Regions from separate parts of the Homo sapiens genome. Here regions 1, 2, 4, 5, 6 and 7 are each reported to be linked to region 3. Evidence: microRNA targets listed by miRTarBase, many of them from high-throughput screens and not tested one by one. Region 3 holds a microRNA gene; each other region holds the end of a gene's coding sequence.
What was found. The annotated mature microRNA hsa-miR-27b-3p reads UUCACAGUGGCUAAGUUCUGC and lies in region 3 at 2,480-2,500, opposite strand. An mRNA with a match to its seed (bases 2 to 7 or 8) in the 3' UTR can be bound and repressed. Matches are read on the target gene's strand: a 7mer-m8 pairs with bases 2 to 8, a 7mer-A1 pairs with bases 2 to 7 and ends in A, and an 8mer does both.

Region 1 (4,000 bases), not on the chromosome of region 3:
CCCTTTTTCAAGATCTTACTCAAGTTTCTACTCCTCTCTTGCTTTCCCTTATACCATTTTGGAAAGTGTTGGTCACAACCTCCTTTCTACTATTCTACCTTGTACATATTTATATAATGCTATTTACCACACTGTGCTGCAACTTTTCGGTTTTATATTTGACTAAGTTGCTTGTCATTTCCCTGATTTGATGAATTTTGTTCTCATTTTTACAAATCTCAATTTTACAAATTTTGTTCTTGTTGAGTTCCTAGGGCCTATCTCTAAGCACACTTTTGATTATTGAATGGATATTTCATTTCCCCTTAAAATGAAAGGATTGTGTTAATTGTATTTTCATAACTAAAACAAAATGGATGACTGGTATGCATGTCATTGGGGACACCCATTGCTTTGTTCATTGTAAAAGCAGGTGGACAGGACATGCTGTAGGTGATAACTGAAGGATGGCTTAGAACGGACTTGCAAATAGACTCAAGAAACATTCAGCCTTGCACTTTTTCTTTTGCAATTACTATTAGCTTTCCCTGCCCTTAAATGTTGTCACAGAGGTTTCAGAGGCCAGTTAATTCTCCTTCCTCTTATGTGTTCTGAACAAGAATAAGAGAGGAATTTAAACATCAGCAGATTCAAATTAAGTAATCAGTTTTATTTTGAGTAATATGAATAGCAGAATGCAACTTGGACTTCACGACAACATCAGTCTTCCTACTTTACTTCTGCCTTGGATTTGGCTGAGTTGCCCAGGCTTAGGAAACTGCAGGCAACAGGAGATGAGTTGGAGGTGGTAGGCTCATTGCATGGGAAAAAAAGCCTTGGGCAGCCTGGAGAGAGAAGGTGAGGTGGCCAAATATGGGCAACAATCCTTCCCCACATGGTCACAAAATGAATGGAAACAGATGGCATACTCTTCAGATCTCACAGGTCCAAAGGAGGGTCTAGGGAGGAGCTGGAGAATGCTGCCTTTCATAGTCCTGAAAAGGTTTCTTTCTATTAAATGCACCAAAGCTGGAGTGCCAGAAGAGAGAGGGGCTGGATCTCCCCAACCAAGGTCACAGGACAGATACATTTCTTAAACCCAGTGTCTCAGGACCTCAGAGATCCTGGTCCAGAAAGTTCCCTTTTTCATGGATTGGATCTTGTAACCCATAAGAAAAAAATAATATGACTTTGTTTGCTGCCTTTGACCTAACACTTACTGTTTTATCATGATGATGGGTAGATTAATAACTGCTCCTGATAGCAAGTACATGTTAATAACATCGAAGCTTAATGATCAAGGAATTAACAGCTTGACACAGGTGTGAGTGCTCTGATGGGAAGAAGGAACCCCTGTGAATGCAAAGGACTTTTTTCCTGCAATGCATGCAGTGCTCTGGACCATATCATCTCAACCCAGGTCAATCTGTAATTGCACATCCTGATGACGGTAAAGAGAAATGACCTGGATGCTTCCACAGCTTGTGCTGTGAGGCCAGAGTGGCTGGTGCTGTGCCACGCTTAATACTGCATGCTTGGACCCTTCTGACATCCCTCCCAGTGCTGGGAGTTTACAATCCTGATAATGCCTCCAGTGCAAATGACTTAAGAAACATCCTTCGCTGGGCTCTGACCTATAATTTATTAACCCACGGTTAGATTTATTTAGTTCTGGCTTATTTCAGGTCTGTGGGTATGCATTCTTTTCATTGCTAAATGTGCTCCCTCAAAGTTGTGATGTCTTTAATTAGACCCATTCTATAAATTATATCATGGTAAGAAAGAAAAAAGAGAAAGTCATGGTCAAGAGACAGCAATGTAAAAGGAATAGATATTTTCATACAGTGGGTCTGATTTTCTCAGTGAGTCGAGATGGTCTTCTTAGAAGTAACATTCTCCACTGATGCTCAGAGCCTATGGTGACCTAGCAATGGTGGAGGGTTTCCCACAGCAGTGTTTTTCAAACCAATGTACATAAACATCACCCAATTCAGCAGGTCTAGGGTGGAGCTGAAGAGCTGGCATCTCCAACAAGCTCCCAGGTGATGCTGATGACTGAGTAGCAAGAACCTAAGTTACTAAATCAAAACACCAGCTCCCCAAATCATCACAATCCATTTTATTCCACAGCATGTTTAAGGGAATGTTATTTTCAGGAAGATGTTTGGGATTAAAATAATTAAAAAAAAACTGGAAATTCACACATTTATGTATCTCTTCTTTTCATTAAATATATATCTGTTTGGCAAAAAATGTTAGACTCTTTTGTACAAAAACAAAGCAAAAAAAAAAAAAAAAACTAACCCAAAACTCTTGCAAATTGTAAATACCAGTAATAATTACAATGATGTAAACTTGGATGTCTGACAGCTTGACCATCCTGTGGAACTTGAGTTGCAGCAGGACCTCCCAGGAGAAGGTAACACCAAACGCTTGGATAGCAACAGTCCGTCCTAGAGGCATTTAGGTTTAGTCTATTAGAGATGGAGCGAGACTACTGATTTCACCATTTGTGCTTTCAGCTAAGAGGCTGGGAGCGTGGGTGGAAATGAAGAAGGCAGTTCTGGCCTGGGGCAGGGAGAGGAAACCCCAGACTAGCTGGTGAGGAGGGAAGATTTGTCACGATCACAGTGCAGACGCAAAGTGGGCATGGGACCTGTGGACTGTTTGGGAAATTTATGCTAGGGAGGATCACGAGGAGGCTGCGGCTGCTGCTCTTGGGACCAAAGAGGAACAGAGCAAGGCAAAAGCAGGGAGAGAGGTGGGAGGAGATTTGAGCGCAGATCTTAATTCAAGTGTAACTGGTGGTGCGAGATGATTCTAGAGAGAGGGGAAAGGAGGATGTGGGGTTTGGTCTTCTCATCAAATAGCTAGGCCATTTCCTCCAGACAGGGGCCTTGGGGCACTGCCCTTGGTCTGGTGGGCAAGTTTTTGGGCAGTCTGGGGCTGCTGGCTTTCCTGCCCAAGGGAAGGAAGGGCATGCCTGCAGAGGGCTAGGATGGAAGGGCCCTTTGGCCTTCTTACTGGCAGTGGGCTTTGCTCTTGTCCCACCAGTGGACTGCAGCCATGGGAAGTGACCTGAAGCAGTGGAGCCGAGGAACAGAATCAGGGCGGTGAGCAAGATGCCAGCTAGGGGCTGAAAGTTGCCAGGGCTAGAGGTGATGCTGAAGGGAATGTGGACCCACAGCTTCCCTTTACCAAAGGACGGTTCCAAGGCGTGGGTGTGTTTTCATTCCTCTCTCCTGTTAGCTAGGTGTTCCAGTTTTGGAAGGGGCATGTCTGGGCCCGGCCACTTCAGTTACAGTCATAGACGAAGTCATAGTTGCTGGGCTCCTTGGGAATCGGCGGAGGTGCGTCAGGGATCTGGATGTTTTCCAGGTCCAGGAGGCGGAGCTTGATTTCCATGCTGAGCAGGGTGTCCAGGTCATTCCGCGTCAGGTCGCTCATCATGTCCTTCCCGAGTAGCGCATTCAGTCCATCCGTCCAGATACAGTACTGGCAGGAAGGGAGGCAACAGCGATCATTACTGGTGGCAATTACAGAAGTATTAATAGTAAAAATAGCTAACAGTGAATACTCATCCCTCAGTAGGCTGTGCGCTAAGGGCTCTGCCTACTTCGTCATTTCATATTTGGCGACATCTCAATATAAAGTCGATACTTCTGTTATCTCTGTTTTATAGGTGAAGGAACTGAGGTACAGAGAAGTGACTCAGTATTATGTAGACCGGGTGGGATTTGAACCCAGGCAATCTGACTCCAGTGCCTGTGCTCTTCTTTGCAAAGAATGCTTCTCTGTAACAGCTGAGGATTGGAGTTCTCCATGACTTGCAATGTAACACCTAGGTGGGAGTCTATGACTTTTAGGTACTGGTGGAATCTACCGAACAGCCCTGGACTCAACATCAGGTGAAGCAGGTTTCTTTGCTGACTCCAGTCATGGCTCCTAGTCTAGTAGCTCATCTCGGCCTGTCCTGTCTGATCCTAGCATTCACAATGACAGCCCTGTCCCACCCTGGAGC
Region 2 (4,087 bases), not on the chromosome of region 3:
ACTCCTCGGCTCAAGCGATCCTCCCATCTCAGGCTCCCAAAGTACTGGGATTATAGGCATGATCCACCATGCATGGCCTAAGTACCACTCTTCAGTGGTGAAACTGAGATATTCTATATTCCTGATGGGCTTTTCTAAAAAAAAAATTGAATTTATACTAAAACATTATTATGATTTAATTTTTATGTGTAAAGACACTACCTATATGCTTTATTCACATTTTAGTGAACTACATTGTTTTATCTTTCTGAAAATCTTTTTGTTTGAGACAAGGTCTCGCTCTGTCACCCAGACTGTAGTGTAGTGGTGTGACCTCGGTTCAGTGCAACCTCTGCCTTCTGGGCTCAGGTGATCCTCCCACCTCAGCCTCTTGAGTGGCTGGGACCACAGGCATGTGCCACCACACCAGGCTAATTTCTGTATTTTTTTTGGTAGAGACAAGGTTTTGCCACGTTGGCCAGGCTGGTCTTGAACTCCTGGGCTCAAGTGCTACACCCGCCTCGGTCTCCCAAAGTGTTGGGATTACAGGCGTGAGCCACCGTGCCCAGCCACCTGGCCTCTTTCTATAAATCTTAAGGAGGTGTTATGAAAGAGGAGAATGAGAAAATTCATTAATTTGACACCTTTTCAGGTTTAACAGTCGTTTGTTTGTCTGTGTTGACTCTTGCCGTTAGACCTGGTTATCACTGCTGCCTTTTCTGCGTTTCTTCCTTCCTTGTAGATCTGGGACATGACACCTGTGGTGGGCTGCAGTCTGGCGACTGGGTTTTCTCCGCACTGATCTGAGAGCTGGGCGGCGTCCACACCTAAGAACAGCAGCTCCACCAAATGAAGTCCCTCTCACGCAGCTCCACAGCGCTGTCTCGTGAATGGACAGTAGCCACTTACAAACAAATCAACATTTTTAAAAAGAAAATGTAAAGGTGTGTTTTGGGGCATTTGTGGAACTTACCCATGGGGACTAATATGGAAAAGGTCTGTCCATAGTGGTTCCCTGAAGACTGGAATTACTTCAGCAAAACTTCCCCATGAACAGCTAATGTGTAGTGAAAGAATGAGCTAGCAAATGAGTTTTAGCGGGGACAAAAAATCAAACAAAAAAGTGAATGCTTAGAACCTTCTCAAAGCAGTCACAAGTACAGACACTTCACTTAGCCTAGGGGGCCTTCCAGGGTTCTTGTGGCTGTTGTCAGAGCAGGAGCTGGGGGAGGGAAGACTTGTTCTCTCTTTCTTGAGGGGTGGCATTAGGAACTTACGAAACCAGAGACCTTTCCCTATGACTTGGCAGTATGTGAATATCCTCTACACTTAGTTATTGATAAACTTCTTAAAGAGATCTGTTATTTTCAGGTAGTGCCATAATCTGCACTTAGCATTGGCTTGCTTCAGTTGTTTCTCTTCCCAGCCAGTATGCCACAGGTGAACTTTCGGGGTTGTCATTAAGTAAGTTGTGAAATTTCTGTAATAACAAAGGCAGTCCGCATTCTTCCCTTTCCCCCAAATTCCTAGGGCAAAACTTTTTTATGGTGCTGTTAACATGGGAGTCACACAAGCCGCCTGACTTTTTCTCATTGCCATTAGTAATGACTGATGGAAAACCCAGCCACCACTGTGATGCGAAATGATCAGTCTGTTGCCTGAAACAGCCCAGTCCTCTTAACTGAAACAGCATTCTACTTCTTGTTCCAAGATGAGCCTCTGCAATATTCTGGCAATTTAATATACCCCCTACAAAAGCACTCCACAGCTTTTACACTATTTTGACTTTGAGTTATAACTAGTATTATTCATGTTTTCATAAAAAGAAGTTAGTGACCCAGAGCTATAATCATCCATCAAGTCTTCCACAATAATTCCCAACTCATAAATTGCTTTCCTAACAACTAGCAAAAGCTATTGTTCATAATGGCATTTCTAAAGCTTTTGGGCACTGTGTACCAGGATGAGGAAGAGAAGAAATGAGGAGCCTGTCTTTTAATATTCCAGTATTTGTGTGTTTGATTTTTTTTGACAACAGTACATATATCTATTTCTCTAGGGATATGGAAGTAAGTGGAGAAGGGCCTACCTTTTTAAAGGACAAATATAAAAATAGCAACAGTATCTTTGCTAATCTTACTAATAGATATTGATTAAAAAAAAAAAACCTCAGTACTGCATCACTGTGTTGGGATCATACCAGGACAATAGGGTCATTCCATATGATAAAACTAAAGGACTAAATTTGTTTTATAATGATGTCTTAGAGGGACTGAAAGGTTTAAGGAGGCGATCAAACTAAAATGTCTTAATGGCTGTGTGACACACGTAAGGAAAGGAAAGGGGGTCACGCACATCATGTACTGGAATGATCTGCATTAAACATAGACTTGTCTTCAGAAATAAGACTGAAGGGTTTTGTTGTTCCTTAGAGTTTTCGTGTTACATCACCTAAAGAGATTTCTTTTAAAAACTTTCTAGACTCTTTGCAAAATGTATATTACTAACATAGTTTGGAAGAAAAATTGAGTAGTGGTAAGTTTTGTTCAAGCACAATGTTGAATGTTAAGCTTCCTGTATTAATTTTAGTTCAGTTAATGGTTCAGCCCATACAAAGGTGCTATCCTAGGGATTTTATGAATTCCTGAAAGGAAAATAGAATATGATCAATTCCTTGCCCTGTGGAAGAGTGCAGAACTGTGGTTTTGTTTTCCTTTGACTTCTGTAAAATGTGACCGTTTGACATCTGTGGTAGATTGAACGGAATATCACAGCTGCTGAGTTTACTCCATAGCTTTCAAACCTTTTTTATTTTAAGAAATTCTTGAAAAACCCTATGTTCCATGGGAACATAAAGTTATTATAGTGCCTCCTAAGGGGTTAATATAAATCAAGGAGGAAGTTTATATTTAAGGAAGAATTGGAGTGACGTATCTTAGAAAAGGAAAGGCTGATGTTTCCATATAGCTTGCTCTCCACCAGGCCTATCATTTTTCTTTTTAGAGACAAACGTGACAGGCTAGTCTTGTCTCTCTCATATGCTAGGTAGCAAATGGGGTGATATTTTTATAGAAGTGGGCAAAAATTATTTTCTCAATTTTACTGAGTAGGCACAGAAGAAAAGTACAGATAGGCTGATGGTTATTGCCTTATTTTGACTGCATTTCTCTTAAATGGATCATTTAAATTAGTTCTTCAAGTAACAGTTTACTGGTTGTTCCATTCCTGAATATGCAGGCTAATTTGTACAGATAGGGATTAAGGAATACAGACTATTAGAGAAGATCCTTATATTTACATCTAGTATATATGTGGTAAGGAAATGCCGATTCTTCATTATAAACAAGTTTTAAAATTGTTCTTTCTTAGTTCAAATGATAGCAATACCCCTATAGCATTAGGTAGAAACAAATTATTCATTACATCGTAAATCTCTTTACTATGTCCTAGCTCTGTCCTGCTACCTAAAGGATATAAAGAAATACTATTGCTCTAGAATGTATTACTTTGTTCTCCCATGAAAGAATTCAGTTTGTTAGTACCTATATTTTTAAACTGGTGAAACTGACCCAAATATGTAATAAATACCATAGTAGCTCAGACCCAAGGAGATATTTTTCTAAAATCAGTTTTCGTTAAAGTACTTCTACTTCCGTTATTGGATATGGTATCTCCTAAAGTGTAAAAAAAATCTGTTACTATATAGTGATAAACCATCTGCTCATCGTAAGTGTAAGGCTTAACAAATAAGTAATACATGCTATATTTATTCAAGTGTCTATTGCTTAATTGTTAATTGTGAGCAGATTTATTGAATGCCTATTCTATTTTCTGCAGTTTACAATACAATAACTCTTTGAGTAAGTTGAAGTTTAATTGTGCAACAAATTTGTATTAGAGTACAATTTAAAGTGTTTTTCTCTATAGCCTTTTTTGACTGGGGAAGCAAGGGGTAATGTTAATTAGTACACTTTGTTCTTGTACTAGCTATGTTTCTATAAGATATGGTGCCCTGTGTATCCCAGAGATGCTAGAAAACTGTTCTTTGCTCCTATTTGTGGGTTCTGTTTTTGTGGGTTTTTTTTTTTGAGAAAATGTACACAATAAA
Region 3 (4,091 bases):
AAAAGAGAGTTCTGGAGACCAAGGCCTCCCAGTCCAGAGCTTCTAATGAGATCCATGGTAGAGCCCCACTTCACCCCAAACAGGCCAGAATTTGTGCTGCCCCCTGGAGCCAGGCAGAGGAGACTGTGGGTGTGTTCAGGTGCACTCATGCTCAGCCCAACTTGGCACAGGGCCCATGGCTGCACCCGTTCCTACAGCCTTCTCCAGGCATTTTCAAACATTCTGCCCCATGGACAGTGCCAAGGAAGCTCAGTGCCCAGCTTCTGTCTATACCCTAAACCTTGTGGAGAAAGAAAAATCATACCACCAGACTCCCACGATGCCTGAATATGCCCAGGCTCTCCATTTTATCGGAAGAGGGTGCCCCACGCGCAGCCAAATTACTTTTGTTTTCAGGCTTCTAAGAGAACTAACACTACCTTGAAAACAACAAAGAAACTAGTGAGGTGGGGGGGGAACACCAGAATGTGGAGAATACCTTTTTCTTGTACGTGCTTTTTTTTTTTTTTTTTTTTTTTTTTTGAGATGGAGTCTTGCTCTGTCGCCCAGGCTGGAGTGCAGTGGCGCAATCTCGGCTCACTGCAACTGCCACCTCCTGGGTTCAAGCGATTCTCCTGCCTCAGTCTCCCGAGTAGCTGGGATTACAGGTGCCCACCACCACGCCCGCCTAATTTTTTGTATTTTAGTAGAGACAGGGTTTCACCATGTTAGCCAGGATGGTCTCGATCTCCTGACCTCGTGATCCACCCACCTCGGCCTCCCAAAGTGCTGGGATTATAGGCATGAGCCACCGCACCTGGCCTTTATTATTTTTAAACAGTATGAAATTTAGAAGCAAACACGTATACAAAAAAAAAATCCATTACATTTATTAATAATATATCTTAGATTCTCATCCTGTTCTTTTAAATGGCGCCCACTGGTCTCATACAGAGGAGCTGTGTGACTTTCTGGAATTATAGAAATATCCGCATCCAGCCATGTGCTGAGCAGACCAATGTAAAATGTTCAGCAGGTTTTCCAATGTCTCTTGGATATATTTAATCATCTCTGCAGAAGAACTCAAAATCTCAGAGCAGCTCCACTCCAGATCCAGGGCAGGAGGCAGCCTCCAGGGAGGGAGGCTGCGTTTACGAGAATCTGCCTTTTGTGTGTGCCTGGCTGGGACCAGCCTCTGGGAAAGAGAAGCACCAAGATGTGAACAGGGCTGTGGGCCGATGGCTTTAGCAGCCACATAATCCCTCCTTTGATGTCCAGGGTCAGTTCGAGCCTGGTCCCCCAGGCTAGGAGGAGACGAATGAAAGAATCTTGCTGTGGTCTTTCCTGCAAAGGAAACAGCAGTAACATTGATTACCCAGTCACCGGGAGGAATTCTTGTGAGCGCGCACCTCTGTGTGCCTTTGCTCTCCACTTTCAAGAGAGGACTTTAATCACAGGACAAGGAGAAGACCCAGGCCCATTTCAGTCTCCGGGACGGGTCACAGCGAGCCGTGTGACGCTGGCCTGCTCACACGTGGCCATGACACCAGCAGGCTGTACTCAGGCTTTGCGTACACAATAGCTGCTAGGAGTACCCATTTCAGACACGCACCCACTCTAACTGTTCTCAGAAAGTCTCAGCTCACCTCGCCGTGGGAGAGCTGGGCCCTGCCTCCCTTACACATGGGGGCAAACGGCCCCCTGCTGGCACTGTGTCCTGCCTTCAGGCCTGGGAGCTCTTAACTTTCTGCCAACAGGGTTTTCCAAGTCTACAAACCCCCACGCCGCAGGAGCACATGCAGATGACTGGCACCGTGCTGCCGCCGGGCCGGGGTGGACGCAGGGTGGACGCGGGCCTGTCTGCCGCGAGTGGGAGCCCCAGCTCTCCTGAGCCTCGGGCACTTACAGACACGAAGGCTTTTTGCTCAAGGGCTCGACTCCTGTTCCTGCTGAACTGAGCCAGTGTGTAAAATGAGAACTGATATCAGCTCAGTAGGCACCGGAGGGCGGGTCCAATCGACAGCCCGGAGAAGCAGCGCCTCAGCTGGGAGCTCCGTGGGCACCGTCTGCTGGCGCAGGAGACGCGAAGGCCTGGACTGCAAATACAAGAGAGAGTTCACCGCGCCCAGAACAACAGGAGCTCCTCCGAAAGCCCCGCCCCGCCCCGCTCACAGCCATGAGCTACCACATGATTTCACACGACTTAGGTGATGCATTTGGTTTTAGTTTTTTGTAAGAAGAATTTTTGCAACTTTCAATACATTTGACCTTTCAGACAGATGTCCGATTAGTGCATGTTTCTGTGGACAGACTTAAGGACTCAGTACATGGCTAGCATTCCCAGCAGGAGACAGTGCATCCTTGGGGTCAAGTGGTCTCTCATCCTCCAGGATCGCGCTCCGCACCCAAGCTGACTGTGCAGCAGCGGCCGGCCCGTCAGCAACGGCCTCTGCCCCAGCGGCTCCAACTTAACTGTCCCCATCTCACCTTCTCTTCAGGTGCAGAACTTAGCCACTGTGAACAAAGCGGAAACCAATCACTGTTCACCAATCAGCTAAGCTCTGCACCTTGTTAGAGAGGTCATCGCTGGGCATAAATAAAGGGACGGTGACCGGTGAGCATCTTCCTCAGCTGGTGGCTTCTTTTGTTTCCAAAGAAGAGCTACGAGATGCACCTGTTCTCCAATCTGCAGTGAGCGCGACCACGGTTTCTGGAGGAGCAGCCAAGGTCGTGGTTGCGTGGTAATCCCTGGCAATGTGATTTTAATCTTAAGTCACAAATCAGCATGCCAGGAACCCAAGCAGCCAGAGCACCTGAGAGCAGCGCCACCCCGTGCTGTCTGCACACACTGGGCTTCCGCGGAAGGACGCCGGCGACACTGCCGCCTTCACGCCTGTTATGCTAGCAAACAGGTGGAGTTTCTGTTTGTTGTTCGTTTAGTTGGCATCCTAGAGGTATAATTTCTTGAATCAAAGGGACTCCAGAGATGACCATAAAAATGCCAGTGCAGCTTTGGAACTGAAGAAAAATGCAGGGACCGGCCATGCGACACACACAATTGCTAAAGGCAGCTGTCCTTGCTATTAGTTTACTGCCTCTAACCCTTGGGGACAAGATCCCTTCTCTCCAGGCAGATTCTAGCTGCCCTGGGAAGGCTTTGGGGACTCTCAAGTCAGGAGGTCCCCCTGCTGGAAGGGGCCCTGGGACAATCCCGGCCACTGTTCCTCACGGGGACTGGTTGGGGGGCAGGCTTGCAACCCCTGGATGCATCTGGAGGGGTGGGGACAGGATCGAAGATGCTGGGGAGGGGGAAAAGGGAGACTTGTGACCAAGATGACTCCTTTGCCTGCCTGGGCAAAAATTCCCCATAAAGAGTGGCGAGGGGTGTGCCCTGTGGTGCTGCTCCAAAACCTGCACCAAAGGGAATGATGAAAGGACTAGCTGGCCTTGTAGTTTCACACACTTTAACACGTACGCCACGAAATAACAAAACGAAAGAGAAACACCATTTACACTGATTACTATTATGAGGCCGGCAGTGAGGTAAGTGCACAGTCTGTGTGCCGCCAGCCCGTCCTGGAGGGGAGCCGCGTCAAGTCTGCAGCAGGCGTTTCGCTACGAGACGCTCAGTCCCGTTTCCCTTTCCTGGCACACATGGTTCCTGACTCTTCTGGAAGAATATGATCATGCTTCTGAAAAACTTTTTATTTCTTTTCATTATTAGAGTTCTTTCAGATAAATAAGCTACTTAAACACGTTACACAGAAATGGTTTTCATAAGCACAAAACATTAGAAGAAAACTCAATGTTCAAAACTGAGTGAAGAATATCAACACCAAATATTCAATATCCATGAAAAATTATAGAGAAGCTATAACACGAAAAATGCTTCAGATTTGATAAAGTTTTTTTAAAGATACAAAATTAGACATCCCCTATTAATATCATATAAAACACTGAAGAAAAACGGAGCAGACACAGAAATAATGATGATTGTTAGAGAAAAAAAATCTCACAGCTATCCTAACAAAACCTTGTGTACTACCGCTAGGTTGCTTTAATAGTGTAGAAACCCATACTGAGCAACTAACTGCTAGGAAGTAAATCTAACA
Region 4 (4,000 bases), not on the chromosome of region 3:
CACGACACTCCAGCCCGCACCAGAGTGAGGACGAGGAGGATCCCCGGAACGGGCCGCTGGAGGAAGACGGCGAGCGCTACGATGAGGACGAGGAGGCCGCCAAGGACCGGCGCAACATCCGTGCACCAGAGTGGCCGCGCCGAGCGTCCTGCACCTCCTCCACCAGCGGCAGCAAGCGCAACTCTGTGGACACGGCCACCTCCAGCTCACTCAGCACCCCGAGCGAGCCCCTCAGCCCCACCAGCTCCCTGGGCGAGGAGCGTAACTAAGTCCGCCCCACCACACTCCCCGCCTGTCCTGCCTCTCTGCTCCAGAGAGAGGATGCAGAGGGGTGCTGCTCCTAAACCCCCGCTCCAGATCTGCACTGGGTGTGGCCCCGCAGTGCCCCCACCCAGTCCGCCAAACACTCCACCCCCTCCAGCTCCAGTTTCCAAGTTCCTGCACTCCAGAATCCACAAAGCCGTGCCTTTCTCTGGCTCCAGAATATGCATAATCAGCGCCCTGGAGTCCCCTGGGCCTGGACCGCTTCCCAGAGGCCAGGAATCTGCCATTACTCTGCGGTGGTGCCAGAGGTTTTAGGAAACCTGGCATGGTGCTTTCAGGTCTGGGGCTTTTAGAGCCCCCCGTGTGGCTTACAAATTCTACAGCATACAGAGCAGGCCACGCTCAGGCCCGGCATGCGGGCCACCAAGTTCTGGAAACCACGTGGTGTCCCTGCGAATGGGGCGATCAAGTCCAGAGCCGGGGCACTTTCAGAGTTTGAAGGTAACTGAGAGCAGATGGTCCTCCATTTCAACTCCAGAAGTGGGGCTCTGGGAGGGATGTTCTAGCCCTCCCTGGCATGTCAGAGCCAGGCTCTGCCTGGAGGATCCCTCCATCCGGCTCCTGTCATCCCCTACACTTTGGCCAAGCAAGAGGTGGTAGAACCACTTGGCTGCTCATTCCTTCTGGAGGACACACAGTCTCAGTCCAGATGCCTTCCTGTCTTTCTGGCCCTTTCTGGACCAGATCCTACTCTTCCTTTCTAAATCTGAGATCTCCCTCCAGGGAATCCGCCTGCAGAGGACAGAGCTGGCTGTCTTCCCCCACCCCTAACCTGGCTTATTCCCAACTGCTCTGCCCACTGTGAAACCACTAGGTTCTAGGTCCTGGCTTCTAGATCTGGAACCTTACCACGTTACTGCATACTGATCCCTTTCCCATGATCCAGAACTGAGGTCACTGGGTTCTAGAACCCCCACATTTACCTCGAGGCTCTTCCATCCCCAAACTGTGCCCTGCCTTCAGCTTTGGTGAAAGGGAGGGCCCCTCATGTGTGCTGTGCTGTGTCTGCACCGCTTGGTTTGCAGTTGAGAGGGGAGGGCAGGAGGGGTGTGATTGGAGTGTGTCCGGAGATGAGATGAAAAAAATACATCTATATTTAAGAATCCCAGGTGTGGTCAGACATGACACTTGGTGGGCCTGGCTGTGACGTCCCCCCAGTACCACCCCTTCCCTGGTCTGAGCTCATCCTCTTATTCTAGAGAGACTTGGGGGGTCTCCCTATGTTGCTTAGGCTGGTCTCAACCTCCTGGGCTCAAGTGATCGTCCTGCCTTGGCCTCCCAAAGTGCTGGGATTACAGGCTTGAACCACCCTGCCCCAGACCCAGGGGAAGGAGAAGGGGAAGAGTCAGAGCTGACACAGCAGTTTTGCAGCTTGGACACAGCAAGTGCTTTTTAAGGCCTGTTTTAAGCTTCTTCAGTTCCCATTTGGAGAATCCGGCCCAAGGTTTCACATCCCATTTCTGTGATGAACCCTAAACCCCTTGTCCAGCATTGCTTGGGCATCACGTGTTCCTGGCTGCTCAGCTCCACTGGCCAGTTCCTCTCAGTGTGCGCCTCACATTGGGATCACTCAAGCTCGGGCCATAATCTCTTAAACTCTGGAGCAAAGACCTCAGTGAGCCCCCCGGTTGCCATGCAAGTTGCATAGCAATAGCGTCAATGTGCCCATATAAAGGGCCTAATAATTCCAACTGCCTCCCAGAATTGAGGCTTTTTTCTTTTTTGAGACAGAGTCTTACTCTGTTGCCCAAGCTGGAGCACAGTGGCGCCATCTCAGCTCACCGCAACTTCCGTGAGGCAGACATGTTTTTTGTTTGAGATGGGAGTTCCACTCTTTTTGCCCAGGCTGGAGTGCAATGACGCCATCTCAGCTCACTGCAACCTCCGCCTCCCAGATTCAAGCGATTCTCCTACCTCAACCTCCTGACTAGCTGGGATTACAGGTATGAGCCACCACACCCAGCTAATTTTGTATTTTAGTAGAGACGGGGTTTCTTCATGTTGGTCAGGCTGGTCTCGAACTCCTGACATCAGGTGAGCGACCCACCTGGCCCCATAATCACTCGTTAAATAGGGCTGTTTCTGGCTGAGACCTAACATCTGTTTCTAGATACCAACCTAGGTCTTAATTCAACTCCCTGGAGTCTATCTCTACCATCTGGGAGGGACAGTTAACAGCCAGGCAAGCAGAGAACCCTCAGGTTCAACACTACCCAGATAGCCTCTTGTCTTAGGACAGTTAAGAAAATGGGAGATGGGGCCAACTCCTCTTTCACTGGCATCCCAACCCAGCCAGAAGCTTTATGAGAACAGATCCCACCTCATCTTCCACACCACACACAAAACCACCAGCTGCATCAAAAAGCTTTATTTCCATTTGGTCCAAGGCTTGTTAGGATAGTTAAGAAAGCTGCCTATTGGCTGGAGGGAGAGGCTTAGGCAGAAGCCCTATTACTTTGCAAGGGGCCCTTCAGAAGTCGCTGGGCTCAGAAGGCTCTTAGTCGTGCTTGAGAGTGAGCCTTTCGAAGAGATACTCGCCCAGCCCAGCCTCCGGGCCACCCAGCCTGTGGAGGTTGGTCAGGTGGTCACCCATCTTCTTGATAAGCTTCACTTCCTCATCTAGGAAGTGAGTCTCCAGGAAGTCACAGAGCTGAGAGAGAAGAGGGAGAAATTAGAAACCCAATCCCTGGAAAAGAGGGGGAGAGAGCAGCCAGTTGCAGATTAAAATGTGACAGGTGTGAAATGAGGCTCTGAAGGAAATTTGCCCAAAGGGAGCAGAGGCTTGAGGGGTATGGTTGGGTAGCCATGGATGCAGCGGGTACGTACATGGGGGTCCGTGCGGGCAGAACCCAGGGCATGAAGATCCAAAAGGGCCTGGTTCAGCTTTTTCTCCAGGGCCATGGCAGCTTTCATGGCGTCTGGGGTTTTACCCCACTCATCTTCAGCTGGCTTCTATATAGAAGGGAGAAATGGCTCAGAATACACACACTCGGCACATAGAACTAAACCTACATTTCCCAAGAGTCGTTGGGGGTCAGAGGCCCAGGCCACAAAGACATGTGACAGCTTGTATTTATCACTCTCCGCACCCTGTCCTAGCTCTTACAGCTATACGTCCCTAAGACCACGCAGCGGTGTGGACTGCCGCGTGTTGTGGGCACTGCACGAGGTGCGCCTCTATTTCCAGCGGTTAAGAGGGCTCACAAGACCGAACTCAATCTCCCAGAAGCCCACGCGACACCTACGCCCTCAAATCAAGGCTCCTCGCGCGCACGGCCTGCTGGGAGATGTAGTCCATTACCCACACACTAGTTACCTTGATGTCCTGGAAGAGAGCGCGGCCGCCACGCTGGTTTTGCATCTTCAGGAGACGCTCGTAGCCCTCGCGCTTCTCCTCGGCCAATTCGCGGAAGAAGTGGCTCACGCCTTCCAGAGCCACATCATCGCGGTCGAAATAGAAGCCCTACGGGAAGAGATGGAGGCAACAATGGTTAGCGGGAGGCGAGGCCAAGGGGACTCCGCCCTCTGTTTACCCGACCGCACAAAGAAGGCTGGCGCGTGCAGTGAGGGCCGGAGGTGCGCAGCTGGAGGAAATTAGGGCCAGGGGCGTCCTGGGGACTCACCAGAGAGAGGTAGGTGTAGGAGGCCTGCAGGTACAAATTGACCAGGCTGTTGA
Region 5 (4,091 bases), not on the chromosome of region 3:
TAGATAGGGACAGTGTCACTTGTAATCCCAGCTACTTGGTAGGCAGAGGTTGCAGTGAGCAGAGATCACCCCACTGCACTCCAGCCTGGGCCACAGAGTGAGACTCTGTCTCAAAAAAAAGAAAAACAAAGATGGGCAGTGTCAGGGTGGTTTTTCAGACCCTGAATTGTTGAATAGATGGGGGATCCAGAGCCAACTCAGGCCCCCCTACTCCCAAATGTCATCAAACAGATTGAATTCCTAAGGGCAGATGGGAGCAATGGGACGCCTTGACCTCTCAGTCTCTTCACTTGCAGTCATCATGTGGAACCGTGGCCTGTACCAAAACAGTACCTGATGAAAGCTGCCATTACAGTATACAACTGCACCCCAGGCCTGCCTCATACCAAATCATTCTCCTTCCTTTCCAGGTACGAGTGCTTCCATATCCATTTACCCACCATTGGCAATTTGAAAGGACCATCCAGACCCCCATAGGATCCACATGGAACACCCAGAGGGCTTTCCAAAAGCTGACTACTCCCAAGGTCGTCACCAAGCCAGGCCATATCATTAACCCCATAAAAGCAGAAGACGTGGGCTACCGGTCTTCCTCAAGGTCGGACCTGTCTGTCATACAGAGGAATCCAAAACGAATCACCACACGTCACAAAAAACAGCTGAAGAAATGCTCTGTAGATTGAGTTGCTGGAGGAGTGACAGCCAGGAGCCCTGACTTCACTTCCTTTGGTCCAGTTTTACTCTGATACAGGGTGGATTCCAAAACTGGCTCAGTACATTGCATGTAGTTAAGCCACATTTTAAAAATAAAGGCATTTTTTAATCTATTTACCTGGAGTATATGTTGCATTGTCCCCCAGTGGGATCATTTCGTTCAAGTCAGACACCTTTGGACTCTACAGCATTGCATTTCTCGAGTTGCACTTGTCAGGGCCACCTCCTTTTCTTACCAAGGATTATGTAGTTGGTCCTAAATCGAAATGGAGAAAGTTAACTGTAGTCTGTAACCTTAAATATATCACATCAGATATGATCCACCATTAATAACTGCCAACTTGAAGAGACAGGGTTAATAATGATAAAATATTGTATATTTTAACCTCTGAACCTAGAAAGAGGATGTACAAACTGCAATTGGATTCTGCCCTAGACTGATCCTAAGACCAGGACGGTGCCGAAGCTGGGTTCTGTCCCCACAAGTCTAGCCACAGCCATTTTTTTCACATGTGTGAGCTTCCCAGCTTGTACAGGCTGCTGTCTACAATATCTCATATATAACCTTCTACTTATTTTCTCATAAGAAGACCAGGAGGTTTGACCCTTATTTTGTAGATAAAGGTAGATGTGATTTCAGAAGTAAACCTCTATTGCCTTTCCTTCCTAACTCAGGGCCCACTCCTCACCATTGATTGAAAGTGTAGTTTATTCAAGCATTGCTTTGCTATATGACAGTTCACATGGGCTTCTCAGCTCTGAGGAACTTGGCCTGGCTTTGGATGGCAAGAAATATACGGAAAGAGCCCCTGCAGCTGAGTTTCCTAACAAGGAATTTGGGAAACCCCTCTGATTCCAAAATGACACCACTACTGCACCTTGCCTCCTACCTTGGAGATTCAGTCCTATCCCCAGTATTCTTAGACCACAGTGGGTTCATTTTTGTGTCACAGGCCCCTCTAAAAATATGTTGAACGTTATGAACCGTCTCCAGAAAAATGTGCACACACACACATTTGTATGGCATTTTACATACAGTTTCAGGGGTTTTCAAGACATTTGGAATCCCTGGGCCAAAAGCTGTACCACTCCAAGTTTTCTTTTGCAATCCCCCCAACAGATACGGCCTTCTGAGCACACCACTCTCCAAATCAGTTCCAAAACGTTTAGACCTCAATGGTAGCTAGTCCCAGTTATCTTTATAAGAGAAAATTTTCAGAATAGAGCGTGCATCTAGTGTTACACATTAAACTGAAGTGAAAAGCCAAAGGATAAATTTATATGAATTCCCCAGTGGGGTCCCCTGTGGCCCCCTACTATTGCTCATCCTCTTAAGAAACAACCTGGGACTGGGAAGGTAAGGGAAATGAGTATGTTGAGCAGTGTTCAGTGCCCAAAAGGCATGCTTAAGTATCCATTGGCTTGAGATTATCCACGATCCACTCGCTGGTTGACACTTAAGTCAGTAGCCAGTGGTAGGGGATGCGGGAGCCCTGCCCACTCCTGCCTCCGTTTAAGAGACCACAACATTCTCTTGCACTCTTTTGAGCACAAAGCTGCTACCTCCGTCCCACCCACCCCCCAAATTGAGGCGCCCAATCAAGTGTCCCCGGTAAATGGCCAATCCCCGTCTACTTTCCCCGGACCCTCTTCAGCTCCGTTTGCTCCCCACTACCCAGGAGTGATGCAAGCCACCCCATCCTTCAAAGGAGAAGGCAGGTGCCAGAGCGTGCTATAAACGACGCCCATTCCCAGCCTTCCAAGCCCCCAAACAGATTCGATTGTTGTTTCGTGGGGCTTTTTTTTCTTTTCTTCCTCCGAACCTCCGAAGTGTTCTCCCTTCCCATTGGCCGAAGCTGCCCCTTGACGCCACCCTGGCCTTGCTCGCTGATTGGTCCACTCTGGATGTGCCCAAGCCTTTTTCCCAGGGTGTGGCGCCCCCCCGCCCCCAACAGGGTTCTGACCCCTGGCTCCTCCCTTCCCCCCAAGCCCCCCTCTCTGTTCCGAATGGTTCCGCCCTGGCTCGGCTCCCCCACGGCCCAGGCCGCTGCCCTTAGGGCCCCCGGACGGGGCGGGGCACGCTGGGGACGGGCAGAGGGCGGTGGTGGCGCCTTCCTGCCGAGTCCGAGGCCGCCCCCGCCACCCTTCTCTAATCCTTGTAGGTCCCACTTTCCCCTGGGCAGTTCTCCTCCTGCATCGGTAGCCCCGTCCCGTCTGTGCAGCCCCCACCGTGGTCTTTGGGTCATCTCGAAGAGCTGCGTTAAATCCCTGCCCTCAGCGCTGCACACACGCCCATCCGCCTCCACCCTCGGGTCCCCGCACCACCCCCTTTTCCCGTGTCGGCTCCCCCTTCCCCTCCCGAGACCGCGGAAGCTCCGACCCCCTTCCCTCGCTGACTGTCCATCCCCAGGACCCCCGTCCCTGTGTGTGGCCAGTCCCAGCGGCCTCTCCTTCGCGGCCTCCCTTCGCCTTCGTGGCCAGCGTGGTGGAGCACTCCCGCCCCCCTTTTCTCCGTACCCCCGCGCTCCCTTATGTTGTCCCTTCTTGTCCCTCTCTAAGTCCCTCCCACACTATGCCCCCCCGCGGTACACACACACCCCTCCCCGCGAGGCGTCCCCCGGCGCCCCTCCCCTACCCCCGCTCGTCTATGCCCCTCCCACCCACCCCGTCCTTTTGTCTCCTCTTTGGTCTCTAAGTCCCCCGCCCCTCCCTCGCTCCCGCCCTCACTCCCCCGAGCACGCTCTTATCTTCCCCAGGTCCCAGCGCCCCGCCCCGCGGCCGCGCCCCGCGGCCCCCTCCCTTCCGCGGCCCCGTCTCCGCCCTCCGCGCTCCGCCCTCCCCCCCGCGGCTCCTGCCCGCCAGCCCGGCCGGCCTCCGGTTCCCGGGTCGCTCCTCCTGCGGCAGCCGCCGCTCCCCGACCCACCCTTCCCGGGCCGGCGGCTCGCGTTCCCGCGCGGTCTCCCCACACACGCACTCCCGCCGCCCCGCTCCGCTCGCTCGCTCGCCGAGGCCCTGCAGCGGCCCGGCCCAGCGCAGCGCGCAGCCCGCAGCCCGTCCTCGGGGAGCCTCGGCGCCCCGTGGCCGCAGGCACCTCGCGGACAGGCGGGCTGGCGGCCCGGGAGCGCGAACCCGAGCCGGGCTGGGTGTCCCTCGCCCAGCCTGGCCCTCGGAAGCCTCGCGGGGCGCAGGGGCCCGTCGGAAATGTTTGGGGGACGGGCCGGCCGCGGTTCCTCCCGCAGCCCAGGCCGGGCCGGCGCGTCCCGGGGAGTCGCCGCGACCTTATCTCCGAGGATGACTTGATCCGGAGCCTCCTCCCGGCTCCCGCCCCAAACCTGTGCCACCAACGCGCGAAGCGCAGCTGAGACTCGCGGCTGGCG
Region 6 (4,091 bases), not on the chromosome of region 3:
TCTCAAAAATGGGGATTAAAAACACCGATATGAAATGTTTGTAAGATCTGAGCTAGTCCCACTCTACCTGAACCATACACGTATTTCTTTGATAAAAGGTGAGACTTTGTCCCACAGGGTCCATTTTGTTTAATTTGCTGGAACCTAGGAATGAATATGCGTTTTCCTTTAAGTTTGTCAGATTCATCCCTGAGAGGTCTGAGATTTAAAGAAAAAATCTATTACCAGATCACGTAAATGTTTGAAATCATTTTAAAAAATCACTTATTTTTCCTTTTATAGGAATCACCTCCTCATGTAGAAAATTACTGTCTACCAGAAGCTATTTCATTTATTCAGAATAATAAGGAACTTGGGACTGGATTATCACAAAAGAGGAAAGCTCCTACAGAAAAAAATAAAATCAAACGACCTAGAGTACACTAATCGCATCTACCCTTTAGTTACCAAACATTAAATGTTTTTAAAAATTGAAAGCCTGAATGTGACTGTGATAGATTTGGGTAGTAATTTAAAGATGAGTACCTGAAGAATTCTGCTTCAGAGTATAATGATGACCCTTCTTGAGTTTTGAACACCTGAAATTGTAATCACTGAAATATTAACTGTTTCTTAATAAAAAGTTACCTGAAATAACAACAAAATACAACTCCTCAGCTAGCTTGCTGTTAAACCACATTGAAGTCTGTTAAAAGATATTTATTTTTCTTGTAAATATCTGAAGCTGTAGCTTAGTGGAAATTTTAGCAAGGTAATGGATTTTGCTTTAAAATGTCTGCCTTACAAATTCATAACAACAAGATTTGTCAGTCAGCATTTATTCATGTTTTCCCTGATTTTTATCTTCTCACCATTTTACCTCTTTTAACAGGAGCCTGAGCACAAGGTTTAATGAGGAAGCTGGGGCTATAAATATGTGTGTATATATGTATATGTATGTTTGTACAAATCTCCATGATGTTTGCCAAGTTTGAATGCGCAAAACTTGGAAAATGTGACAATAAAGAATAAAAGTAGTAACTCAAATTAGTATTAAGATGTGTTTACATAGATAAATTTTTTAAAAGAGCACCCTGGCATCTGTTCTTCTGTTGAAGCAACAAAACATTTATGTAACGTAAAAAATGAATTGCAGGGGCCTGGGTGCGGTGGCTCGTGCCTGTAATCCCAGCACTTTGGGAGGCTGAGGCAGGCGGATCGTCTGAGGTCGGGAGTTTGAGACCAGCCTGACCAACATGGAGAAACCTCATCTGTACTAAAAATACAAAAAATTAGCCCAGTGTGGTGGCACATGCCTGTAATCCCAGCTACTCAGGAGGCTGAGGCAGGAGAATCGCTTGAACCCGGGAGGCGGAGGTTGCGGTGAGCTGAGATCGCGCCATTGCACTCCAGCCTGGGCAACAAGAGCGAAACTCCATCTCAAAAAAAAAAAAAAAAAGAATTGCAGGCCAGGCACGGTGGCTCATGCTTGTAATCCCACCACTTTGGGAGGCCAAGGTGGGTGGACTGCTTGAACCCAGAAGTTCAAGACCAGCCTGGACAACATGGCGAAACCCCATCTCTGCAAAAAATAGCAAAAAATTAGCCGGGCATGCTGTTTGATGCTTGTAGTCCCAGCTACTTGGGAGGCTGAGGCATGAGAATTACTTGAACTCAGGAGGCAGAGGTTGCAGTGAGCTGAAATCATGCCACTGCAACTCCAGCCTGGGTGACAGAATGAGACCCTGTCTCAAAAAAAATAAATGAATTGCTTAACATTTCTGATATTTGTTATTTAGAATATTGCCCTATTAGATTAAAACATACTGTTATTGGAACTCTGTATTGCATTAGCCTTTATTATGCTAAACCTAAACACCTAATACTACATGCGTTACCAGAATTCTCTATAAATACACCTAATTTCATTTTAAGGACAAACTAGAATCCGTTAGGAATGTAATTTTGATGTAAACCGTTCAATTCCAAATGACTTTTTGAAAGGCAGATTCAAACAGTGAAGGAGAGAGTGCTCAACTTGGACACAAAATCCCTTAAATTTTCATCAGATTTTCTTCAAAATGGAGTTGAGGGTATCCCTGCTGCTAGAGGATTGGTCCTACAGGGTTTTCAGCTTTGAGCTAGTTCACAGCTTAGGACAATACAAATTCTACACAGAGAAATAGGTAGCATTATGATGTAAACTGTCCCCCTCCCACCAAACAAAAACCACATGGGCCTGTCTTTATCAGAGCTATTTTATTTTAGCTGAATCATTTTGTAGATTGTAGTACGTTTCCCTGAATTTTATTACTCAGAATCCTTTGAAATAGGCCAGGCACAGTGGCTCACACTTGTAATCCCAGCACTTTGGGAGGCCAAGGTGGGCAGATTACTTTAGGTCAGGAGTTCGAGACCAGCCTGGCCAACATGACGAAACTCCATCTCTACTAAAAATACCAAAATTAGCCAGGTGTGCCGGCACGTGCCTGTAATCCCAGCTACATGGGAGGCTGAGGCAGGAGAATCACTTGAACCAGGAGGTGGAGGTTGCAGTGAGCCGAGATCGCACCACTGCACTCTAGCCTGGGTGACAGAGTGAGACTCCATCTCAAAAAAAAAAAAAAAAAAAATTCTTTGAAATAGTTACTTTTTAAATTACCTAATATACCACTTTCTTTTCTGCCAAAATTATGAATGGTTTTCCAGTTCAAACTTAGACACACAGTTTACCATTTAAGGCTCCAGGTCTCAGTTTCTCCTCCTAACTTTCCAGCATCTGCCCATACTCTGTATAAGCCACTTGAACTCTGGCTTTGGCTGTTAATCTGTAAATGTCCTAATGCCAGCAACAATATCCTCTTATATACAAATAATTCCAAGCATAGGTAGTCTTCTTGTTTAAAAAGGGGAGGGGGCAGAACTTGCCTTGATTAGATTAGTATGAGTTTCTTTTCTGAATGGCTACGATATTTTAATCTGTGATATTTAAATTATCACCTTATATCCCTCCACGAATTTTCCTGTGCATTAGTCTGATCTCACCAACATTCGTTAATTCAACAGGTAGGAATCCTCAACCTGTGCCTAGGATTCAGCAACAAACCACCTGGAACACATGGTCCCTTAGCACTTGAAGAGGTAGGAATCCTTACTGTAAATACAGTACTCAATTATACTCAGATTTAGTATTTACACTGTTAAGGACTGAGCTTGTCCCCCTAAAATTCACAGGTTAAAGCCTAACCTGCTATGTGACTGTAGACAGAGCCTTTATAAGGGGATTAAATGAGGTCATAAGAATGAGTCCCTAACCCACCAGGACTAGTGTCCTGGTAAGAAGAGGGAGGCACACCAGGAGTTTGCCGGCACGGAGGAAAAGCCCTGTGAGGACACGGGGAGGGCAGCTATCTGTTTACACACCAGGAAGAAATGTCTCACCAGATACCAACCCTGGCCGTCTCCTGGATTTTGGATTTCCAATCTCCAGAACTGTGAGAAAATAAATTTCTGTTTAAGCCACTCAGCTTGTGATGTTCCTTTGTGGCAGCCTGAGCAGACCAGTAACAATATTAACAGTAATAAGGTTCTTACTTTGGGGCCTGAGATGCCTGGGAATGGAACAGGCTGTTTTGTATATGAGCATTTTTAGGGTAGAGTTCATAATTCTAGAGTTTGGATCTGTGACTTTCCACCCAAAAGTCACAAACCACTGCTCTAATGCAAACCTATTATTTCACATTTACACCTCTCACCTAGAAGTGCTTTAATACAGGCTGCTTTGTATCAGGGCTTGGTTTCCTTCTGACCTTTCAAGACATAAAAATCATTACTAGCTTGAGGCCATGCAAAAATAAGCAGTGGGCCATAGTTGACTGTTCCTTATTTTCTATCCCTAAAAAGATTTTAAAATCTAGATCTGTCAACAAGCAAGGCACCCAGCTCAATTTTTTTTTTCTTTTGAGACGGAGCCTCGCTCTTGTTGCCCAGGCTGGAGTACAGTGGCATGATCTCAGCTCACTGCAACCTCTGCCTCCTGGGTTCAAGCCATGCTCCTGCCTCAGCCTCCTGAGTAGCTGGGATTACAGACGTGTGCCACCACGCCCAGCTAA
Region 7 (4,091 bases), not on the chromosome of region 3:
TCGTTACCGGACCACTTCTTCAGCCAACAATCCCAATCTGATGTATCAGGATGAGTGTGACCGAAGGCTTCGAGGAGTCAAGGATGGTGGCCGGAGAGACTCTGCAAGCTATCGGGATCGTAGTGAAACCGATAGAGCTGGTTATGCTAATGGCAGTGGCTATGGAAGTCCAAATTCTGCCTTTGGAGCACAAGCAGGCCAATACACCTATGGTCAAGGCACCTATGGGGCAGCTGCTTATGGCACCAGTAGCTATACAGCTCAAGAATATGGTGCTGGCACTTATGGAGCTAGTAGCACCACCTCAACTGGGAGAAGTTCACAGAGCTCTAGCCAGCAGTTTAGTGGGATAGGCCGGTCTGGGCAGCAGCCACAGCCACTGATGTCACAACAGTTTGCACAGCCTCCGGGAGCTACCAATATGATAGGTTACATGGGGCAGACTGCCTACCAATACCCTCCTCCTCCTCCCCCTCCTCCTCCTTCACGTAAATGAAACCACTCAAGTGGTAGTGACTCCAGCAGACTTAATTACATTTTAAGGAACACTGTCTTTCCTTTTTTTTTCCTCTTCGCCTTTTCTTTTTTTTTCCTTTTTTCTTTTTTTTTTTTTAATTTTTCCCCCCAACCATCGTGATTTGTCTTTTCATGCAGATTAGTTAGAATTCACTGCCAGGTTTCTTCTGCCCACCAAAATGATCCAGTCTGGAATAACATTTTGTAAAAAAAAAAAAAATATATATATATATATATAGCTGACTGGAAGAGATTAATTTCTTCCCCCAACTTCTTGCATGTTGAAGATATTTGAGCTATTTTTCATCTAAAAGAGTAAGGTATTAGGCCCTTTTGTGGGAGCCCCATGTTTTGTTTTTCTGAGTTGGTGGGGAGGGAGGGAGGGGGAGGGCTGAATTGTTTTGCAGAGGAAGATGGCATCTGTGCTTTAAATTTCTCATTACTGGGTTAGAAAACAAAGAGGGATTGCCCTGCACATTTTCTTTTGTGCTTTTAAATGTTTCTTAAGTTGGAACAGGTTTCCTCGGGCCTGTTTTGACTGATTGCTGGAGTGCATTTGATAGTTAAAAATTACTAATTGGTTTTATTTCCCTTCACACTCTGCCTCCCCACTTCTCCCCCCGTTACTGAAAAATAACCATTTTAGTGTCAGGCTAGAAATTGAATTGCTGAGTTTTGTGTATCCTTTAAATTAAAAACCACAAGTGTTTATTGTAGTGGTTAAACTGTAGCATCTCAGCATCTGGGTGGAAGCTGCCTATATTTCTTCCCAGTTTAACTGGGGACCATCTGTGAAATTAATTTTCCATCCAGACAGCTGCTGTGAGCAAATGAACATAAATGCTCGCTGGAAATTTACTAACCAGTTTTTATATTGACCTGCAGTGTAAAAAGCACATTTAATTATAAACAATATATTCAAAATGGGCAAATTTTATTTTCAAATGCAGTGTAGAGCTAGATTAAAAGCAACTCTTTGCCACCTACTCTGCCCTTTTGGCAAAGTTACCTTGAACAAAGAATCTTAAGGGTTTATTAAGAACTCTTTATTTTCTTCATACCCTGTTCTCTGCAGTGCTTTCTAACAGCTTCTGGGTGCAGATTTTCTTCGGCATCCTTTTGCACTCAGCTTATTACAGGTAGGTAGTGCTTAAGAAAAGTCATGGAGGACTAAAGCCTAAGTCCTTTTCACTTTTCCTCCATCTGAAGGTAGGTGAGTTCATCCTCTTCATGGTAATGCTGTTTTACCAAGACTTTATAGCAGATGGACCCAGAAAGAATTTTCTGCTATTGTGTTCACTACAACAGGATAGGGACATCAGACAGCCCCAGAAACCCCTTCCAGATCTGATATGGGACTATTAATTTTTATGCTGTTAATTGGTATTCATTCACAATGCAGTTGAAGGGGGAAGGCTCCACTGCATTCTTTGGCTAAGGCCTGAATGCTTGCTCATCTGTAAGATCTATACTCGAGGTTTTGTTTTCCTTTTAAAATTCTTTAGGGAGAGAGGGATGGTTTCTGAGGGGTTCTGAAAGTATGATTCAATGTGCAACATACAGGTAGGTCTTCAGCATAAGCTGAAATATATGCATGTAAAAACTTTGACATCTTTTTTTTTAATTTTCCACTTTCTTCTTAACTTTACTTCTCTTTTTGTCCCCCCCCCATCTTACAGAAGTTGAGGCCAAGGGAGAATGGTAGGCACAGAAGAAACATGGCAAACTGCTCTGTGCTTTCAAACCAAAGTGTTCCCCCCAACCCCAAATTTGTCTAAGCACTGGCCAGTCTGTTGTGGGCATTGTTTTCTACAACCAAATTCTGGGTTTTTTTCTTCTTTCTTTAAACATAGAGGTACCACCACAAGGGATGCCCTACTCTCTCGCAGCTCTTGAAAGCATCTGTTTGAGGGAAAGGTCTCTGGGCAAGCAAGTGGTTATTTGGATTGCTTGCTTCCCTTTTTCCACCTGGGACATTGTAATCATAAAATAACAGTAAATTCCAAACCTCAAAAACTATTATGGCCTGAGCACAGCTGAAATCTAGCAGAGTTTAACTCTTCTGCCTCCATGTCTGTCACTTATAATTCAGGTTCTGCTGTTGGCTTCAGAACATGAGCAGAAGAATCGTTTTATGCTAGTTATTGCATTCATGGTTGAAACTCAACTTAGGGAAAGGGTTCCAATGTATTAAGCAATGGGCTGCTTCTCCCCAATCCTCCCTAACAATTCGTTGTGTGGACTTCTCATCTAAAAGGTTAGTGGCTTTTGCTTGGGATCAGTGCTCTCTATTGATGTTCTTGCTGGTCTCCAGACACATTCCTGTTGCATTAAGACTTGAAAGACTTGTAGATGTGTGATGTTCAGGCACAGGATGCTGAAAGCTATGTTACTATTCTTAGTTTGTAAATTGTCCTTTTGATACCATCATCTTGTTTTCTTTTTGTAGGTATAAATAAAAACACTGTTGACAATAAGGTGTGAGCTTTTATTGCTTAATTCTCTGAATAATTCAACGTAGACGTCTTAAAACAGTTTTTGTTTCAAGACAAAGATGGGGGATATTGGATTGACTGATTACTTTCGCACCTAAAACTGAAAGGAAAAAACTTAATACAAGAATTGGAATTGAAAACCCTAGCAGGATACCTAGTAGGTAAGGGTTTGGATATATCTGTATCTGCTCATAAGTAAAACAGTGATTGTGCAAATGGTACTCGCCTAAGTACCATTAGGTTATTGGTATTAAGGTACTAAGTACAAGGCAGGTATCAGCCACTGGTTTGAAAAAATTCAAACCAGTAAAAGATGAGTCACAAAACTCCTCCAGCCAAACCTGGTAAATTTGGTTTGCTTCTGGCCTGAAGGCAGTGTGAAAGTGAAATAAGTTTCACACTTAAAACTAGCTGACACCTTTATATCTTGACCACCTAAATTTGGTCATCTACCTGGAAAGTGGAAATTCACAAGAACGTACCCTAATATTTTAACTGGTCTTTAGTTGGGACATTCTAAGAGGAGGGACATTGTTCCAGATTGGGGTTGACTTGCTCATCATGAGTCTTGCCCTCAGGCCTTGGAGAACAATCATTTATGTTTTTTATTTCGTCGGTAAGACACCTTAAGGTTTCTTGTTGCAGTGAGGCACCATCTTTGTGCAGGTGGCCGAGGTTTTTTATGACCTTACAATGGGTCTTTAAGGGCGATCTATTGATGAGAAGGTCTTCTGGGTGGGATGATCAGGTTTTGCTGAAATCCACACTAAACACTTTTCTGGTTTTAACATTTGATCCCAAATTATGGATAAGTTGCCAAAGAGAACATTCAAAATAGTTTCCTTCATGTGCTTGTTAAGGCGTAGACTGTCTCTGAAGGTCCTCAGATTGGCATTGGAAGACTTAACTTCTTTCCCTTAAGGACTGGAAGAAAATGGAGATGAAATAAGAATTTACCATCTGATGAAAGGACTGCTTTATAACTTGATGCATAATCTTGGTATCATCTCTTAATGGCCGGCTCACAGTATATGTTCGATTGTTAAAGCAAAGGGGGAGTCCATCTCCGGTTGACTATGG

Region 1: the mRNA of ELMO1 is a reported target of hsa-miR-27b-3p. Seed matches in the 3' UTR shown: 7mer-m8 at 2,605-2,611.
Region 2: miRTarBase lists WDFY1 as a target of hsa-miR-27b-3p. Seed matches in the 3' UTR shown: 7mer-m8 at 1,609-1,615.
Region 4: the mRNA of GYS1 is a reported target of hsa-miR-27b-3p. Seed matches in the 3' UTR shown: 8mer at 1,123-1,130.
Region 5: miRTarBase lists UTP14A as a target of hsa-miR-27b-3p. The part of its 3' UTR that is shown has no 7-base or 8-base seed match.
Region 6: miRTarBase lists TOPBP1 as a target of hsa-miR-27b-3p. Seed matches in the 3' UTR shown: 7mer-m8 at 488-494.
Region 7: the mRNA of DDX17 is a reported target of hsa-miR-27b-3p. Seed matches in the 3' UTR shown: 7mer-A1 at 1,306-1,312.

What each region holds. Positions count from the first base shown.
Region 1 is chr7:36,852,278-36,856,277 of GRCh38, forward strand. ELMO1 (engulfment and cell motility 1) reads right to left here. Exons shown (of 22, transcript NM_014800.11): 22 at 629-3,474. The coding sequence ends at 3,274. Among named protein-coding and RNA genes, the nearest start is that of MIR1200, 65 kb to the right of the region's middle. RefSeq lists an enhancer at 2,411-2,912.
Region 2 is chr2:223,875,365-223,879,451 of GRCh38, reverse strand. WDFY1 (WD repeat and FYVE domain containing 1) reads left to right here. Exons shown (of 12, transcript NM_020830.5): 12 at 722-4,087. The coding sequence ends at 781. Among named protein-coding and RNA genes, the nearest start is that of AP1S3, 40 kb to the right of the region's middle.
Region 3 is chr9:95,083,914-95,088,004 of GRCh38, reverse strand. MIR27B (microRNA 27b) reads right to left here and starts at 2,560; the gene lies at 2,464-2,560. It overlaps AOPEP (aminopeptidase O (putative)), which reads right to left. Exons shown (of 17, transcript NM_001193329.3): 17 at 846-1,323. MIR23B (microRNA 23b) reads right to left here and starts at 2,797; the gene lies at 2,701-2,797. It overlaps MIR3074 (microRNA 3074), which reads left to right and starts at 1,911; the gene lies at 1,911-1,991. It also overlaps MIR24-1.
Region 4 is chr19:48,965,557-48,969,556 of GRCh38, reverse strand. It overlaps GYS1 (glycogen synthase 1), which reads left to right. Exons shown (of 16, transcript NM_002103.5): 16 at 1-1,427. The coding sequence ends at 269. It overlaps FTL (ferritin light chain), which reads right to left. Exons shown (of 4, transcript NM_000146.4): 1 at 3,948-4,000; 2 at 3,641-3,787; 3 at 3,151-3,276; 4 at 2,678-2,974. The coding sequence ends at 2,822. Among named protein-coding and RNA genes, the nearest start is that of FTL, 2.2 kb to the right of the region's middle. RefSeq lists enhancers at 999-1,228, 3,959-4,000.
Region 5 is chrX:129,928,926-129,933,016 of GRCh38, forward strand. UTP14A (UTP14A small subunit processome component) reads left to right here. Exons shown (of 15, transcript NM_006649.4): 15 at 411-827. The coding sequence ends at 683. It overlaps LOC105373335 (a long non-coding RNA gene), which reads right to left. Exons shown (of 3, transcript NR_188631.1): 2 at 833-970. Among named protein-coding and RNA genes, the nearest start is that of UTP14A, 25 kb to the left of the region's middle. RefSeq lists an enhancer at 2,318-2,437 and silencers at 2,678-2,917, 2,988-3,077, 3,158-3,237, 3,248-3,407, 3,438-3,907.
Region 6 is chr3:133,597,585-133,601,675 of GRCh38, reverse strand. TOPBP1 (DNA topoisomerase II binding protein 1) reads left to right here. Exons shown (of 28, transcript NM_007027.4): 28 at 283-1,438. The coding sequence ends at 426. It overlaps LOC124909437 (a long non-coding RNA gene), which reads left to right and starts at 2,599. Exons shown (of 2, transcript XR_007096110.1): 1 at 2,599-3,120; 2 at 3,214-3,501.
Region 7 is chr22:38,482,340-38,486,430 of GRCh38, reverse strand. DDX17 (DEAD-box helicase 17) reads left to right here. Exons shown (of 13, transcript NM_006386.5): 13 at 1-2,993. The coding sequence ends at 496. It overlaps KDELR3 (KDEL endoplasmic reticulum protein retention receptor 3), which reads right to left. Exons shown (of 5, transcript NM_006855.4): 5 at 2,984-3,935. The coding sequence ends at 3,895. Among named protein-coding and RNA genes, the nearest start is that of KDELR3, 16 kb to the right of the region's middle.